Linked DNA regions of Homo sapiens: region 2 is linked to region 1. Evidence: fine-mapped expression QTL. Tissue or cell type: whole blood. Region 1 holds a variant in brackets; the other region holds the start of a gene. All regions are shown on one strand. Distances are between the middles of the regions.

Region 1 (8,562 bases):
TGTTGGCCAGGCTGGTCTCGAACTCCTGACCTCAGGTGATCCTCCCGCCTCAGCCTCTCAAAGCTCTAGGGTTACAGGCATGAGCCACCACATCCTTATATTCTTTAAATTTGATCTCCCCTATTTCCCATTTGACATCTTATTCTTGATTGGTATTTTACTTACCAATCAATAATTTCTGTTGTTTCTATAATTTCAATTATTTCTAACCCCACATTGGTTTTCAATATTATTACTATAGTTCTTACAATATTTGTATAGATTTAATTTACATGTTTACCGATTTATCTTAACTTTTTTTTGCATCTCACGTCATCATTTTTGTTACAATTTCTTTCTTCAGGTACTCCAGGAAGAAACAATTTTCATAGATTTTCATAGATCTCCAGTGATACCCTGTGAATAATAAACTTTTTTTATTTCTCTGAAAGTATTCTCATTTTAGCCTTATTTTAAAGGATACTTTAGTTATGAATATGATTTTAGCTTAAATAGTTATATTCTCTTAGTTCTTTGAAGATATTAATCAAGTCTTTTTTTTTTTTTTTTGAGATGGAGTCTGGCTCTGTAGTCCAGGCTGGAGTGCAGTGGCGTGATCTTGGCTCACTGCAACCTCCGCCTCCCGGGTTCACGCCATTCTCCTGCCTCAGCCTCCTGAGTAGCTGGGACTGTGGGCGCCTGCCACCATGCCTGGCTAATTTTTTGTATTTTTAGTAGAGACAGCGTTTCACTGTGTTAACCAGGATGGTCTCGATCTCCTGACCTCGTGATCCGCCCGCCTCGGCCTCCCAAAGTGCTGGGATTACAGGGGTGAGCCACCGCACCTGGCCTAATCAAGTCTTTAAGATGCTGTTGCTGCTGATTAGAAATCTGCTGTCAGTCTAATAGTTATTATTTTGTAGTCATATGTCTTGTCTCTGGTTGCTTTTAAGACTTTATCTCTGATATTCTGTAGTTTTACCATCATTCGTGTGTGTGTTTTTTTCAGCTTGTTCCTTCAATGTAAGGACTTAGATCTTTTTTATAAGTATGGAAACATTTGATCTATTATTTCTTTAAACATTGCCTAGCCGTCTGTCTTCTCCTTCAGGAACTCCTATTAGAAGTATATAGTATTTTCTAATTACGTCCTCTGTGTCTCTTAACTTTTCTCATACATTTACCATTCTCTTTAATCCCTCTGTACTGCATTCTCTGTGATTTATTCAAATCTGTTTTTCAGTTAAGAAATCTCTCTTCAGCTATGTCTAACCTGCTGCTTAACTTGTTTAAGCTTTTCATTTCAGTGATAGTTGTTTTTATTCCTTAAAGTTATATCTGTATTTTAAAAATCTGCCTAGGTTTTTTCAGTATGGTTTCTTTTTTCCTTACTTATCTTTAATCATTTATTTAATTCATACTTCACCAATTTTTTTTTTTTGAGACAGAGTCTCGCTGTGTCCCCCAGGCTGGAGTACAGTGGCGTGATCTCGGCTCACTGCAACCTCTGCCTCCCAGGTTTAAGTGATTCTCCTTCCTCAGCCTCCTGAGTAGCTGGGACTACAGGCGCCTGCCGCCACACCAGCTAATTTTTTGTATTTTTAGTAGAGGCGGTGTATCACCAGGATGTATTAGCCAGGATGGTGGTGTATTAGCCAGGATGCTCTCGATCTCCTGACCTCATGATCCACCCCCCTTGGCCTCCCAAAGCACTGGGATTATAGGCATGTTTGTGTGTGTGTGTGTGTGTGTGTGTGTGTGCAGTTTTAAGAAATTTTATTGCATGTGAGCTGAGATGGCGCCGCTGCACTCCAGCCTGGGCGACAGAGTGAGATTCCGTCTCTAAATAAATAAATCTTTGGAGTTTTAAAATTTTTTTTGAGACAGGGTCTCGCTCTGTCACCCAGGATGGAATGCTGTGGCATGATCATGGTTCACTGTACCCTCGACCTCCCCAGTTCAAGCAATCCTCCTGCCTTAGCCTCCTGAGTAGCTAGGACTACAGGTGCATGCCACCACACCTGGCTAATTATTTTGTACTTTTTGTAGAGACAGGGTTTCGCCATGTTGCCCTGGCTAGTCTCGAACTCCTGGGCTCAAGACCCACCTCTACCTCCCAAAGGTGAGCCACCAAGCCCGACCACATGTATATTTTTGTGTAACCACCACCACAATCAAGTTACAGAACTGTTCTATCACCACGAGGCTGCAGCATGCTGCCTCTTTAGAACCACCAGCACTTGCCTCATGCTTCTGCCTTATCCCCAACCCTTGGCAACCACTAATCTGTTCTCTACTTCTACGATTTTGTTATTTCAAGAATGTTTTATGAGTAGAATAATACAGCATATAACCTATGGAGATTGGCTTTTTTCAGTCAGCATAATTCCCTAGCGATCCATTCAAGTTCTATGTATTGATAGTTTACTCCATTTATTTATTTATTTAGAGACGGAGTCTCACTCTGTCATCCAGGCTGGAGTGCAGTGGCGCCATCTTAGCTCACTGCAACCTCTGCCTCCTGGGTTCAAGTGATTCTCCCACCTCAGCCTCCCAAGTAGCTGGGACTACAGGTGCGCACCCACATGCCCAGCTAATTTTTGTATTTTTAGTAGAGACAGGGTTTCACCACTTTGGCCAGGCTGGTCTTGAGCTCCTGACCTCAGGTGATCCACCCACCTTGGCCTCCCAAAGTGCTGGGATTACAGGCGTGAGCCAGTGCACCCAGCCCTGTATTTATTTTCAAATGAAATATATGGGCATATCTTTTGCCCATTTTAAAATTAGATTTTTATTTTATTTCATTTTATTTTTTTACTGTTTTGAGAGTTCCTACATGTTCTAGATACAAGTCCTTTGTTGGATATGTGGTTTGCAAATATTTTCTCCCAGTCCGTGCCTTATCTTTTCATCATCCTCACAGAAGTTACAGAGTAGAAGTTTTAAAATTTGATGTCAACTCCTTAATAACTGTAACCTAAATAGATATTTAGTGTAGTAAGTAGTCTCCTTCCGATTTGCTGTGATAGCTAGTTCTTAGGATACAAATTCTTCCCATTGTTGTACATATGAGCTCTCCCTCGTGCTGGTTCATTGATTCATCTCTTTTATATTTTGTGAACTTTTGAAGAAGGTGTTCTTTTTCCTTCATCTTAGTGCCCTGAACTGTGAGTGTCACTCTGCTTTGATGTTTTACATTTTCTCTTGCTAGGACTTAAGAAATTTTATGGATCCTGGACCAGTTTGGGGATTTCTGTAGCTTCAAGGCACAAAAAATATCCACTTTTCCAGTTTACTACAGCATAATTGGATTTACTGCACTAATATGGATCACTCTTTGTTTTTGGGATTTGTGGTTTCCTTTTTTTTTTTTTCTTTTTTCCTTTCTTTCTCTCAGTCTTGACTATGTAATTAAATTTTTGTATTATTTTATAAAGCATTTTAGTATATTTGTAGTGAGAGTTAGTTCACATTAGCTTAATATTCCATGTTGTCAAAACCAAAACAATCCATGTAAGTGTTTTAATCGAAAATTACATATAATTTGAGTACAGAGGGTGAAAACTTAAGAATTAAAAAAAAATAAATAAATAAGATAAACAGTGAAGTTAAAATGAAATCTTTGACAGAGAAGCCCCTAATATTTCTCTATCCATTAAGGTACAGATTTGGATGGAAAGCACCAGATTTTCTTTGATCTTTCTGATTTTTTTTTTCTCTAATCTCATTTCTACCACCCTTCCCTTTAATAGACATTTTTTTCCTTTGATTTCCCAGGATATGCTCCGTGTAAAGTGTTCTGGCCTTCTCCTGAGCTTTGTTTTCTGAATTTTCCTCCTCACACTGTCTCGTCCTCAATCCTGAGTTATAATTTTGGAGCTCTTGTTCTAACTTGACAACTAGTTTCTGATTACCCAGCCACTTCCCATGCTTATCATCTGGCCAGGATAAACCAGGCTTATCTCAACAATTCTAGTGCTAATTTTATATCTTTAATCCACAAATTGCTTGCTGTTCTTAGTGCCCAGCATTTTCATGCCAAAAAGTTTGCATAAAGTTAGTCTCTTTATGGGGAAAATTTTGATAAATGGAAGGAATGTGTGCAATTCTCTATTGCCATCATTAAAGTGGAAGTGGAAAGGCCTTGTGTTGTGAAATAAAA[C/T]CATTTCTTCATTCCCATATTTAGTTTTTTTTCAAGTCCACACACATTTCTACTTCCCTATTTTGTGTAAACAATGGTGCTTCCTTTTTTTCCTTTAAGAGAGAAAATCCCTGTCACCCAGGCAGCCTCACCTTGAACTACTGGGCTCAAGCAATCCTCCTGCCTCATCTTCCCTAGTAACTGGGACTACAGGACAACACACCGTGCCTGGCTATTTTTTTTATTTTTAATTTTTAGAGATTGGGGGTCTCACCCTATTGCCCAGGCTGGTGCTTCTGATTGAAGTCCTCCAAAGGACTTTTATTGCGTTCAGATTGAAGTTTAAATTTCTCACAGTGGCCTACAAGGATCTACATGATCTGGCCCTTGCCTAGTCTTCATACTCAACTCTGTATCTTCCTTTCAATGGGTAGATTCGGGTATTCTTTTATTTCTAGACATTTTTATTAGGTAATTATAATTTTAAATATTCTGTTTTAATGTTTTGTTTTCAGTCTTTATAAACTCCAATTTTCCATATGTTGGATCTTCTCTGCTGATCTCTGATATACATTACTCTGAATCAATTTTAAATAAATGGTTATCACTTCAACTCAAGCATGTACTAAGTGCCAAGTATGCTAGAATATACCCTAGTCAGTGATTTTTTAAAAGGGATCACACATGGTTCATTTTGCTGACTATGAGCTGATAATTATGTAGAGGCAGTGTATATGGAGAAAACAGCTTGAGGCTGGGCATGGTGCCTCATGCCTGTAATCCCAGCACTTTGGGAGGGCAAGGTGAGCAGATTGTTTGAGCCCATGAGTTCAAGACCAGCTTAGGCAACATAACAAAGCCCTGTCTCTACCAAAAATACCAAAAAAGGAAATTAGCTGGGTGTGGTGGCATGCCTGTAGTCCCAGCTACTCGGGAGGCTGAGGCAGGAGGATCACTTGGGAGGCTGAGGCAGGAGGATCACTTGAGTCTATGAGGTCAAGGATGTAATGAACCAAGATTGTGCCACTGCAGTCAAGTTTGGGTGGCAGAATGAGATCTCATCTCAAAAAAAAAAAAAAAGAGAGAAAATAGCTTGATAAAAAAATGAAGGTGTCAATAATAGATGAATAACTACTAAAACAGGATAAAGGCATTAGATGATATAGAATCGAACTGTGTAGCCAAAAACAGTAAGAAAAGCTACCTATAAAATTCAGGTTTAATGGGCTCTATGGAAGAAATCTCATATTTTCCATTCATTTATTAATGCTCACATTGATCTTTATTTTAACACTTACTGACATTATATTTAGACTTCATATTTTCTTATCTTTATGCTACTTTGTGTGCTTTGAATGTTTATGTGCACCCCCCCATCCCAGAATTCATATTTTGAAACTAATACCCAATGTGAGGGTATTTAGAGATGGGGCCTTTGAGAGGTGATTAGGTCATGAGGGCAGAATGCTCCTGAATGGAATTAATGCCGTTATGAAAAAGGTTTCAGAGAGATCCCCACCCCTTCTGCCATGTGAGGTTACAATGACAAGATGGCCTTTCTATGAGAAAGTGGGTTCTCATCAGATGTAAAATCTGCTAGCACCTTGATCCTGGACTTTCAGCCTCCAGAATTGTGAGCAATAAATTTCTGTTATTTATAAGCCACTCAGTGTATAGTATTTTGTTATAGCTTCTTGAACAGGCTAAGACACTACTGTATAAATGTTCCCCTGGCAGATATTTGATGCTTTTTCTGTGTTCCTTCAGAATTTTGTACCAACTTCTATTATAGCACTGCCTACTTGGGCTGTAAGACAGTTTAGCTCAGTGGCCCAGAGTGGTGACTCTAAAGTCAGACAGATGTGACATAGATTCTTAGCTCTGCCACTTACTAGCTTTGTGACCTCAATCAAATTACCTGACCTATAAGCTTCATTTTCTTGATCTGTCAAATGAGGGTAAGAATAGATAGTCATAAATGCTAAATCAGACAATGCATGTAAAGTGCTTAGTACAGTGTCTGACACATAGTAAACTTCAATTCATCTTTTTTTTTTTAAGAGATGGGGTTTCATCACGTTGCGCAGGCTGGTCTCCAACTCCTGGGTTCAAGAAATCAACCCACCTCAGCCTCCCAAAGTGCTAGATTTACAGGCATGAGCCACTGTACCCAGCCAATTCATCTTTATAGGTGCTTGTCTGCCTTACTGTACTACAGTCTCCATGAAGATGTGGACCATGGTATGTTCTTTTTTTGTACTCAAGTACCTGACATGTAGTAAGTCCTAGTAAGTGTTTGTTGGGTGAATTTGCAGCTCTGTATAATAGTCCTTTTTCTTAACAAAAGGTCATATGCCATGTTGGTTCACTATCTAGGAGACTTTTAAACAGAGAACAGAGAGCCTAGCATGTGCTCATCTGGTAAGGTGTGCTTCAGGGTAAATAGTTATTGATACTTGTAACTCTTTTTAACCTATGATCTAGAAAACTCCATTAGTCTGGCTTTCCCCAAAGTTCTTGTGTCCATTAATTTTTCTGTCCACAAAGTTTTCTACCATCCCCACTGAAGACATGCCTGTGGTTTTCTGGGATGACTAATTATTTTATTTTAAATTCACCTCTAAATCTTTATTCCAGAGCATCCTGTATGCAGTTAAAGTTATTAATATTTTGCATTTGGCACCCCTGAGAAATATCAGCATTCAATTATGGACCACATTCTCCTCTTTTCTCTAGTTGCTCCAATGTTGCATTTCCCATGAAGTTTATTAAGAATTTAAGGAGGGAGGAAAACAACCCAGCTATCTTTCCCTTTGACTGATGGCACTAATTTAAATTTTCCCTTTAAAAGTAATGTGTGGTGATATGGTTTGGCTGTGTCCCCCGCCCAGATCTCATCTTGAATTCCCACGTGTTGTGGGAGGAACCTGGTGGGAGATAATTGAATCATGGGGGCAAGTCTTTTCCCTGCTGTTCCCAGGACAGTGAATAAGTCTCATGAGATCTGATGGTTTTAAAAATGGGAGTTTCCCTGTAGAAACTCTCTATTTGCCTGCTGCCATCCATGTAAGACGTTGACTTGCTCCTCCTTGCCTTCTGCCATAATTGTGAGGCATCCCCAGCCATGTAGAACTGTAAGTCCATTAAACCTCTTTCCTGTATAAATTACCCAGTCTCAGGTATGTCTTTATTAGCAGCTTGAAAACAGACTAATACATGTGAATATATTGGTATAGATATAGGTATTATTATGGCTATACTGGAGACATATATGTAGTTTTTTATATGGATGAAAAAGTCTGGAAAAATACATCTCAACAAGTTAACCGTGGTCATCACTGGGTGGTGATGTTATCGGTGTTTAGTTTTTCTTTCTACTTCTCAAAATAAGGCCTTGATGGGTTGGTTTCTTTTCTGCTTTCACTTTAGCTGTAATAATTCTCCGAGACTATTAACTGTTTTCAAAGTCTATTTTCCCATTCGTTTAGGTAATAGGACCCTTAACTTTTAGCTGAATACAAGATGACCAGAATAAAGACTACATTTTCCAGCCTCCCTTGAAACTAGCAAGAGCCGTGTGTCCCCCTTCTAGTTAATAGGATGCAATTAGAAATGTCACGTGCAATTTGGGGAAAGTGTCCTTGAATGGAAGATGCACTCTCCTTCCTTCCTTTTCTCCTTCTTGCTGATGAGGAGGCAGATTTAATGACTAGAAGTTGAGCAACCCTTTTGGACCAGAAGAATAAAAGTCACACCCTAGGGATGGCAAACTGAAAAGCTGGAAGAGGCCTGGGTTCATGACAATTCCGCAGACCTTGCCAAACTGGCCTTAGACTTCTCATCTCCAGATGTTTTACATGAGGGCAACATATACGTTTAAGGAATGATTAATTTGGGTTTTATGTTATAGACAAATCAAATCCTAACTGGTGTGAAATTAGTGTATAATTCATATTTTCCTTTGCTTCAGTAGTGAAGAATTTGTATTATATGCTCTTCCCCAGACACGCTTAACATAATTTCTGTAAGTGAACTGTCAAGCTTTAATTCTTATGCAGTTTTAAGATTGTTAAATCTTGCATATCTCTAGTTCAATGAAAACATTAGCATATGTTTACCAGAACACACATAAAAAAATGTTCATGGCACAATCCATTTGTAATAGCAACAATTTATTAAACCACTGATAAACATGGTTAAATAAATTGTGGTACAGTCCTGCTATTGAGTGTTACACAATGGTGAAAATGAATAGAGTATGATCTCAACATTATTGATCAACCTTAGCAATATAGTATTGAGCTAAAAGAACAAGTCCTAGAAGACAACATATAATACATTCAAAACAAATAAAACTAGTATACTGTTTAGGCCCACGCAAATGTGCAATGAAATTTAAAGAAGAGCAATGTATGATAAAAACAAAATTTAAAAGAATAGTT
Region 2 (8,562 bases), 43 kb after region 1:
TATCCTTTAAGCAGATGTAGAAATTAAAGATTATTCAAAGTGAAATGGGTAAAATACAGAGCTGGTTATGGGCAAGTGGCAGGCTCATGCACTATGGCTAGGACCACAGATTGAAACAATTTTCTGGAGGCCAGTTTGGTAAATAATGTAGTAAAAAAATTAACATGTACCCTTTGAGCCAACAATTAATCTTCTAGAAATTTAAAGAAAATAATTTCTAAACTGCACGGAGGCATGCATTAGAATTACAGCATGATTTACAAAAATATACAAACAAAAATACAGACAATGTAAACATTTTTAGTAAGGAATTAAATGGCTAAACAGATACACAATGCAAGAGTATTTAACTATTAGGATGAAAATACATTGTACAGTAAAAGGCACCAGATTACTGATGAGCATTTATCATGTGATTTTATTTTATTTATTTTATTTTTTTGAGATGGAGTCTCACTCTGTTGCCCAGGCTGGAGTGCAGTGAGGCGATCTTGGCTCACTGCAGCTTCTGCCTCCTGGGTTCAAATGATTCTCCTGCCTCAGCCTCCTGAGTAGCTGGGATTACAGGCACCCACCACCACACTGAGTAGAGACAGAGTTTCACAATGTTGGCCAGGCTGGTCTTGAACTCCTGACCTCAGGTGATTCGCCTGTCTCGGCCTCCCAAAGTGCTGGGATTACAGGCGTGATTTTATTTTTATGTAAAATTGACTACATATAGTGTATTTATATGTGCAAATATATATAGAGAAAGGTGTGGAAACATGTTTACTATGTTTCTCTCTGGCTTGAAAAAGTTTATTTTTAAACTTTTTGTGCTGTTCTTTATTGACTGAATATTTTGTGAGTCTGTATCAATTATTATAAAACAAAAAACTATTTGAAAAAAAGAATGTCAAAGTTAAATCAATTCTTGCCTCAGTAACTGGAGTAATTTCATGCACACTAGCCATATATTTTATAGAACTGGAAATCTATTATGCTCTGGAGAAAATCCAACAGGTATGTTCTAGATTTTGCCCGTAGAACTAGGCTGTTTCTAGTCCACCAAAGGATTATATTAATTTATGGAAACAATAGGGTTTGGACTAAAACCAGTTCTATCTGGGCTATAAGAGTTAAATGTTGTCTTACATTTTTATTTATAAATATCTTCAAAGCATTTTCATTTAATTGGAGTTAGTCTTCCTTGTTGATTGGCATTGTATTTTGGGAGTAAATAAATTTTAAATAGCTAAGGTAAATGGATTTTAGAGAGGCTACTTGTACAGTCACGAAGTAAATCTAATGAATCTTTTGGCCCTATATTTAGGGTTGCTCGGGTGGATTAGTAAAATGGGCCTGTTTAGTAAAAGTAGATGGAGTCTGAGAGAAGTTGAGTATGACCAGAGAAAAGATTACCAATTGGAGACATAAAAGGGTGTTATAACTGCTTTGACAAGTGATTATGACTTGTAGAGGAAGGAGAAAAAAGTCAAAGAGTTATTATTTAAGAAACATTACCAGGCGCAGTGGCTCATGACTGTAATCCCAGCACTTTGGGAGGCCGAGGCTGGTGGATAACCTGAGGTCAGGAGTTCAAGACCAGCCTGGCCAACACGGCGAAACCCTGTCTCTACTAAAAATACAAAAAATTAGCCGGGCGTGGTGGCGGGTGCCTGTAATCCCAGCTACTCGGGAGGCTGAGGCAGGAGAATCACTTGAACCCAGGAGGCAGAGGCTGCAGTGAGCTGAGATCGCGCCACTGCACTCCAGCCTGGGCGACAAGAGCGAGACTCTGTTTCAACAACAACAAAAAAGAAACAGTACCATTCTAGAAAAGAACTCTCTCTTTAGCATACATGGATGGTTATGGCAATATAAATTAACACCTAAATAATTTGTCATTCAACAAAATCTTAGCACTGTGTGTCTTGAGGATATTTTAAAGTTAATTACGACCCCGGGCTGCAGAGTGGGAGATTGGAAGAAGGAAATTCAGGAGTTGTTTTGTTAACAGTTGAAGCTGTGGAAATAAACAGTCAACCGAAGCCAGAGGAAAGGAAGGAAAAAAATAAAACCTTGAGGATACCAACATTTTTTATGGCCCCGTAAAAAAGGAGCAGCCCAAGAAAAGTGCAAACGAAGGCAAGTTCAGAAATCAGGTAGAGAGACTCATATTGAAGACAAGGGAGGAGAGTTTCAAAAAGGAGGAGTTAGCAGTATCACGTGCTGTAGAAAGGCCACACGACAGTAGGACTGAAGTGGCCACTAGATTTGGCCTTCAGCACTTACTAGAGTCTAGTGGAGACAGGAGTACCTTGCACAAGTGGCTCATTTGTTGGCACCAGAGGCTAGAACAAGGCACTTTCACACAGTCTGCATTGGACTAGATTGGGAAGTAGGCCCTACATTAGGGGACGAAACTCATGAGTGCCCGGGTATTTTCAGCTATTATTGGGGATAGGGACTCTGCGGGTGGCTAGAGGTACTGCTAAGCCAGAGCTCAGGAGATGCACCTAGGGCCCCAGTAGTAGGTCTCCGATAAGAATCAGGGGAATGAATATATAAATGAATGAATATATGAATGCATGTGGGGGTGTGGTCTAGCGATTACTTTATGAGCGTGACAAGGATAGGAAGAGGATGGTGAAAGCATACAGTAGTACCTGCCTGTGAAAGAAGCTGCCCGTCGACTCAGAGAGCTGCCACGGAGATTGGTGTTTTCAAGGCTGTCAGGTTCCCCAGTTGGGAGAAGGGTGGGAAGGGCTTAAGGATTTACAGAGATTGATTTAGGGGAGAACACACAGGAAGCGAAACAGCAGGAAACGCCGGGAGACAGCAGCAGCAGGACAGGATTGAGGAAGGGTAAGAGTGCGAAATGGGGTAAGAATAAAAGAAAGGAATGGACAGATGTATGCTTTACAAGGCACTTCCACGGCGAGTGACTCATTCATGCTTAGGACAACCCAGGGAGAGACATAGGTATATATTGCATTGCCAGCCTTTGGAATGCGGGATGCGGTCCAGATAAGGCCATCGCAGCTCAGAGAGGCTGTTCAGCCGCTGTTCGATTCCTCTGGTGACAAGAACACTCTACTTTTGGAAGTAGCACTTCTATTAGAGAAGTTAAAAAAAAAAAAAAAAGAAAAGGGAGATAAGAAGAAAGGTGTGGGCCCCTTGAGGGGAAAGATCTGTGAATGACAGACATTTTAGATAATTCATGGAATTGCAGAGCCAGAACGGGTCAGGCAGATCTTTTCATCTGTAAAACGAAGGGGGCAGACGATCTTCCTTTTCTCTTGTCTAATAGCCTGTGAAATCATCTAGGCAACCACCTCCCAATTTTACAGAATAAAAAACGAGGCCCGCGGGATATGTCTCGCTCAAAGTAACAGAACGCCCGAGTGGAGGGACAGGCCCGGAGCCGACTCCGCCCCGTCCGCAGGGCCTCTCGCCGCTCCGACACCTTCCCAGAAAGATAAAGAACAGCGGGAGGCGGCAGGCCCGGCGGCCTAGCTGCGAGCGCCCTGGTGTTCGAGGCCGCTTCCCGGCAGCAGTGGGAGGAACGCCCCGAGGGGAGGGCAGGAGAGGGGCGGGGAGGAGTTGAGACGGGCGGGGAAGAGTTCGGGCCTCCTTTCCCACACTTCGTTAGGACGCCGGCTGGGGCGGGCCGGCAGAGGGCGCGGGGCGGTTCCTCGCTCGGCGGGCCCGGCAGGCCCGGCGGGCTGGGGGCGCGCTGTCCCGGGCGCACTGTCGGAGCTCGCGGGCACCGGGTCGCGGCGGCCCGGGCGGCCGGAGCCGGCAGGGGAAGTGCGGCGGGCGGGCAGGCGGGCGGCCGGGAACGGGCGGGGCGGGGCGGGGCGCGAAGGGGGCGGTGCCGCGAGCGGGGGGCGGTGGCGGCGGCGGCGGTGGCGGCCGAGGAGGAGAACATGGCGGCCGCGGAGAGCGGCTGAAATGCCTGTTCTTCAGGCCGGGCGAGCGGGAGTCTGACGCGATTTGCTGAGCTCTGTCCTCCGACGGCTGCCTCGCGGCCTTGAGGGCCTCCGCCGCCTGTTCGCTGCTGCTCCCTCGAGCGGAGCCTGCGTCAGGTTCCCTCTGCATCCCCCTGCGGGGGGACCCCTGCTCCGGAGGAGGGGGCCGGAGAGCCGCGGCGCCGGGCCCGAGGAGCGGCGGAGGCCGGGGCGGCGCCGCCGCCACGGTCGCGGACGAGTGCGGCGCCGGTGAGCGGGGCCCAGAGGCGGCGGCGGCAGGTGAGTGGCGGGCTGCGGGTGCGGAGCCTCCCGGTGGGTGCAGCTGTCACGAGCCGCGCGGCCGCGGAGGCCCTAGGGGGCGGGGAGCAGCTGGCGCCCCTCCGCCCCCTGCTCTCCTTTCTCCCGCTCCATCCTCCTCCCACTTCCCCGAGTTCCCCTCGCGGCCCGGCGCGGCTGGAGGGGGCGGAGGTCGCAGCTGTCACGGGCACCAGCTGGGGGCTGCTCCCCGCCGGGGGAAATCGCTGCAGCAGCGACTTCTCTCCGCCTCTTTTCCAGTTGCCCTAGTTAGCGCGGAGAGGGCGAGCATCCGCGGAGGGGGTGCGAGCTGCGCGGCCGCCTGCCCGGCGTGGGGAGCGGGCGCCCCGGGCCGCCGCCGAGAGGGGGAGCCGGAAGTCGGCGCGGGCGCCCCTCGGCCCCGACGACGCCGTGACCTTGGCCGGCCCGCTCACCTCTCGGAATCTCGCCTGCCGGGACCGCGAAATGGGGGCGACCGCGGCGTCCCTCTCCGTCGGCGCAGCCCTCGACGGCGCTTGGGTTTGACCCCGGCGCGCTTGCTCGCCCCTTCTCCCGAGAAGGGGTTTCGGAGGTAGACATGGGATGGATACTGGACATGTTCCTGTCGCGGCCCGGGTTTGGTCCCCTTCCTGGGATTCAGCCGAAAGGGCCGAGGAAGGGAAGCAAACATGTTGACGAGGCGATTGGGAGGTGGGGTTGGTTAGTGGGCAGTGACAGAATTCGGGCCGCTCTCTAGTCCCTTGTAAAAGACCTGAAAAAATCGGACACCCAGGGTCTCCAGTCCTTACTACCCAGCTGTGGTGGCTGCTTTTTTATTTTATTTAAAAGCAGTTACCCCCATGGGTAGACACTGCCCAGTCTGACGACGTTAGAGGGAGACGGAGGGGTTGACAATACAGCCTGTGTGTGTGTGACAAGGACAGGCCACGGTGTTGTGTCCGGAGAGTTTCATGGGGAGGAAAACTTTAAGCTGGAGGATCTGTTAGCCTCTCATGCTTGGCCCTCCTCGTTTCTTGTAGAGGTGTTGAACAGGCAGGTGTCCTTGTGCAGAAGGTGACATTTTTTCTTCGGAGACGGTGAGTTTTTAATGTCGAGTGTGATGTTGGTGAGTAAAGGGTTCTTGAGTGAATTGCAGTCCCAGCACCCTCTGTGGATGCCAAGAGGAATCTCTGTGGCGATGATTTGTGAGGGCTGGTGCTTACATTTCAGTGATTAAGAAATCAAGTGTCTGCTTAAAACATTACTGCCGTGAAGCGTAGATTATATGATACAGTTGAGGGATGGATCTCAAGGGTTAAATTTGTTTGAGGTTTGTCTCCTCTTCTGGAATTGGTTGGAGGCTAGTCTCAAAAAAAAAGCAAACAAAACAACAACAATAACAACGAAAGTTGGCCAGAGGGGCCTCCTATGATGTTGTAGGAAGGGGGTCGGATTTCTTCATGTTGAGAATAATGTGAAAAGAAAGTATTTGCTTAGGTCTCTTGGATCTTCAACTAGAAATAGTTTTGGGTTAAAGGTAGCAGTGGGGTTTGATTCAGCTTAACAAATAGGCATTCCTTGAACTATTTGCCATAAATTAGATAAAATGGAAGTGTTTCTGTTTTATCTCCTGTACTTTGTGGAAAGGTCTAATTTGGTTTTGTGAACGAATGTCCGAAATGTTTTATATTTCTTCTTCAGACTCTATGCTTTGGGAACAGTGGGTCACAGAGAGGGTCTGAGTTGGGAATATATGGTTTAGAGAGAAAATAGAGGACTGCTGCTTATAAGAACAGGTGTTTAGTTTGATTTTTGTAGATATTTTCTACTGGTTATTTAACAACATTGAAGTTTGCTTTATAAGGTGCAAAACGTGAATTTTACGTAGCTTACACTTGATCTCTTCCTTATTTCTCTCAGAAAACCTGTAGGATTGTGCCTATTAAATTGCTTTTTGTGTGGTTTAAACCAAGAGAGTATTTTAGATCTGCAGTGGTTTTATTGGAAAAAAAAAAAAAGTGCTTGATGGAGCTAATGGTGATTGTTTCACTTAAACTAGGATTATATAGACAATGCTTCTTCCTGCCTCTTTCTGCGAACATTTGTTTTTGTTTCTCCCTCAATTCCAGGGTTTCATTTCTAGAAATCTGGGCTGCAAACAGAAGCAGCAGTTTGTATAATCCCAAGAACTTGCTTATGCCAGGAAGCTGTAAGGGTAGCATGAAGCGGGTGTGATGTAAAGACACTGCTACTACTTAAGACATTTAACTGTTGAGGGAGTCTAAGGTCAAACTTTAATTTTTGTTGAATTTCCTGTTTTCTGCTTATGTGTTAATCTTTTGGTGGGCAGAAGATTGGGTTGCTATGGTGCTAACTGGTGTATATTGTGAAAGTGCTGGCAACATTTCATGCTTTTACTCTATAGGGAAGGGTGGTAAACAAGCCTAAATAATTTAAAGATGTTGTTCTCAGAATGGAATGTTCTGTGCATGTCTTCTTGATCCTGCTAATCCAGTGAGCGGTCTTCACTAGGACTAAATGTTGAGTAAGTGATGAGGGTGGTATAGAGGTGCTGAAAGGTGGAGTGGTGGAGAGAGGGTATTGGGCATTTTCTTGAAATTCTTTTCCCCAATTCTGTATAGGGAATCTGTATACTAGACTGTGATTTATAATTGTTTTTCAAGGATGTTTTAGTTCTCCCTGCTTGGTTGTCATCAATTTCATATACCTCCTCTTAGATACTACCTCTGTTCCGTACTTTAGTTTGTCTTTTTTGCTGCGTCTCCCAAGGACTCCACATTGTTTGAATGTTATGTTGCATATCTTATGGAGTTGGCTGGCCTTAAGCCATGTGGCTTAACATAGTTTTCATTATAGGGCAGGTGTGGGAGGTCAATACAACGCACAACACGGAGTAAAATCTAAGTCATGGAGCATAGGAGATCCCCGGGACGCTCATGATTGTTTTGGCATTGGTTTTTGCCTTTTAAATATGATTATAACAGAAATTCTCAGAGGACCATCAGCTGCTTTCCTGGCAGAGGTCCAAAAATGTTTTGGAGGGTTCCATTTTGCATTACTTGCAAATATTGGATGCTGTGGTCGGTGTGGGCTCGGGTGAAATCCATGTGTTTCAGGAGGTGGATGTCAGAACACTGTATCTGATCTGGGCTGCAGAACCGTATAAATTTCTCCCTATCTTAGATTAACTTTCCTACCCATTTGGGAAGACTAGACTGTAGGAAAGGACTTTTTAAAATTGCTTCTTTCCCAGATTAGCAGTAGTTTAGCCGTTGGTGATTGGCAACTAAGGATAGGCCTCATGTTCTATTCTTAACATTGAAGATGAGGTCTAGTCATTTAAAACCTTTCCTTTTCTCTTTATATTTTAGTTAGACCTTGTGCCTTTCAACATTTGGTGTCAGAGGTCATAAAATGGCCTAGTGGCAACTAGGTACCAATGTTGGTTGCTTCATTTCATAAGGAGATGAAGGTGTTTTTTTTTTGTTTTTTTTTTTTAATAGCTTAGTTCTGGAAAATGGTTTGTGGGCTATAGTATTTGGATTAATGTATAGAAATGATTATTATATATTTCTGCAGGATACATGGCTGAATAAGGGAAATTATTATAAAACGCTGATACCAACATATAAGTCCAATTCCATAAGTTTAAGTAAAGTGAGTTGTATCCATGCTTCTTCCCCCATAACCCCATCTGCAACACAGAATTTTTGAGGCTCCTTGGAGTGATAGGCTTTTAGAAAAGCTTAGTATGGTTATCATATTTAAAAGATAAGTAGCTTATGCCAAAATAGAAGCTCTAGTCACTCGAGGAGTTATGGAAGACTCACCCTCATCTTGGATATATTTTGTTCTTACCACTCCCCGAGAGTATGTTTTAGTGTGTGGAGGGCAGGGATGTTTGGTTTTACTGAGTAGCCCTGACCTGACCATTAGGCACAGACAGGCCAGACTCATAAAAATAGGTGCAAGCACGGAAGCAAAACGCACCCATTATCAGGACCAGAATTCTAATTGTACTGGATTATCCAGTTTTTCCAGAGTGATGCTTCATTTTTGCCCTTTCAGCTTATAATTGTGGGGCAATTTTAAAGCATCTTTTAGAAAAGAAACTCTGACCAGACAGACAGAGGTGTCCTAGCTCTTCCAGATACTTAGGTTGATGTAGCCTTGAGCTGTTTAACCACACTAAACTTCAGTTTTTATATTTAAAATTGGAGTAACGTACTTGTCCTCATATTGTAATCTTTAAAATTATTAAATGTGTTTAGCATATGATTGGCACATAGACATTAATGACTAACAGGTATTTCAT

The links. PIP is the estimated chance that this variant, and not a neighbour inherited with it, causes the effect.
Region 2: it holds the start of NCOA1, and the variant in region 1 is fine-mapped to the expression of NCOA1 in whole blood (TOPMed, PIP above 0.99).

The regions. Positions count from the first base shown.
Region 1 is chr2:24,444,818-24,453,379 of GRCh38, forward strand. The region is part of intron 2 of LOC105374329 (a long non-coding RNA gene); the gene reads left to right. Among named protein-coding and RNA genes, the nearest start is that of NCOA1, 42 kb to the right of the region's middle. The variant C/T (reference allele first, on the strand shown) is at 4,142.
Region 2 is chr2:24,487,371-24,495,932 of GRCh38, forward strand. It overlaps NCOA1 (nuclear receptor coactivator 1), which reads left to right and starts at 3,884. Exons shown (of 23, transcript NM_003743.5): 1 at 3,884-4,232. RefSeq lists silencers at 3,537-3,876, 3,854-4,012, 4,167-4,656.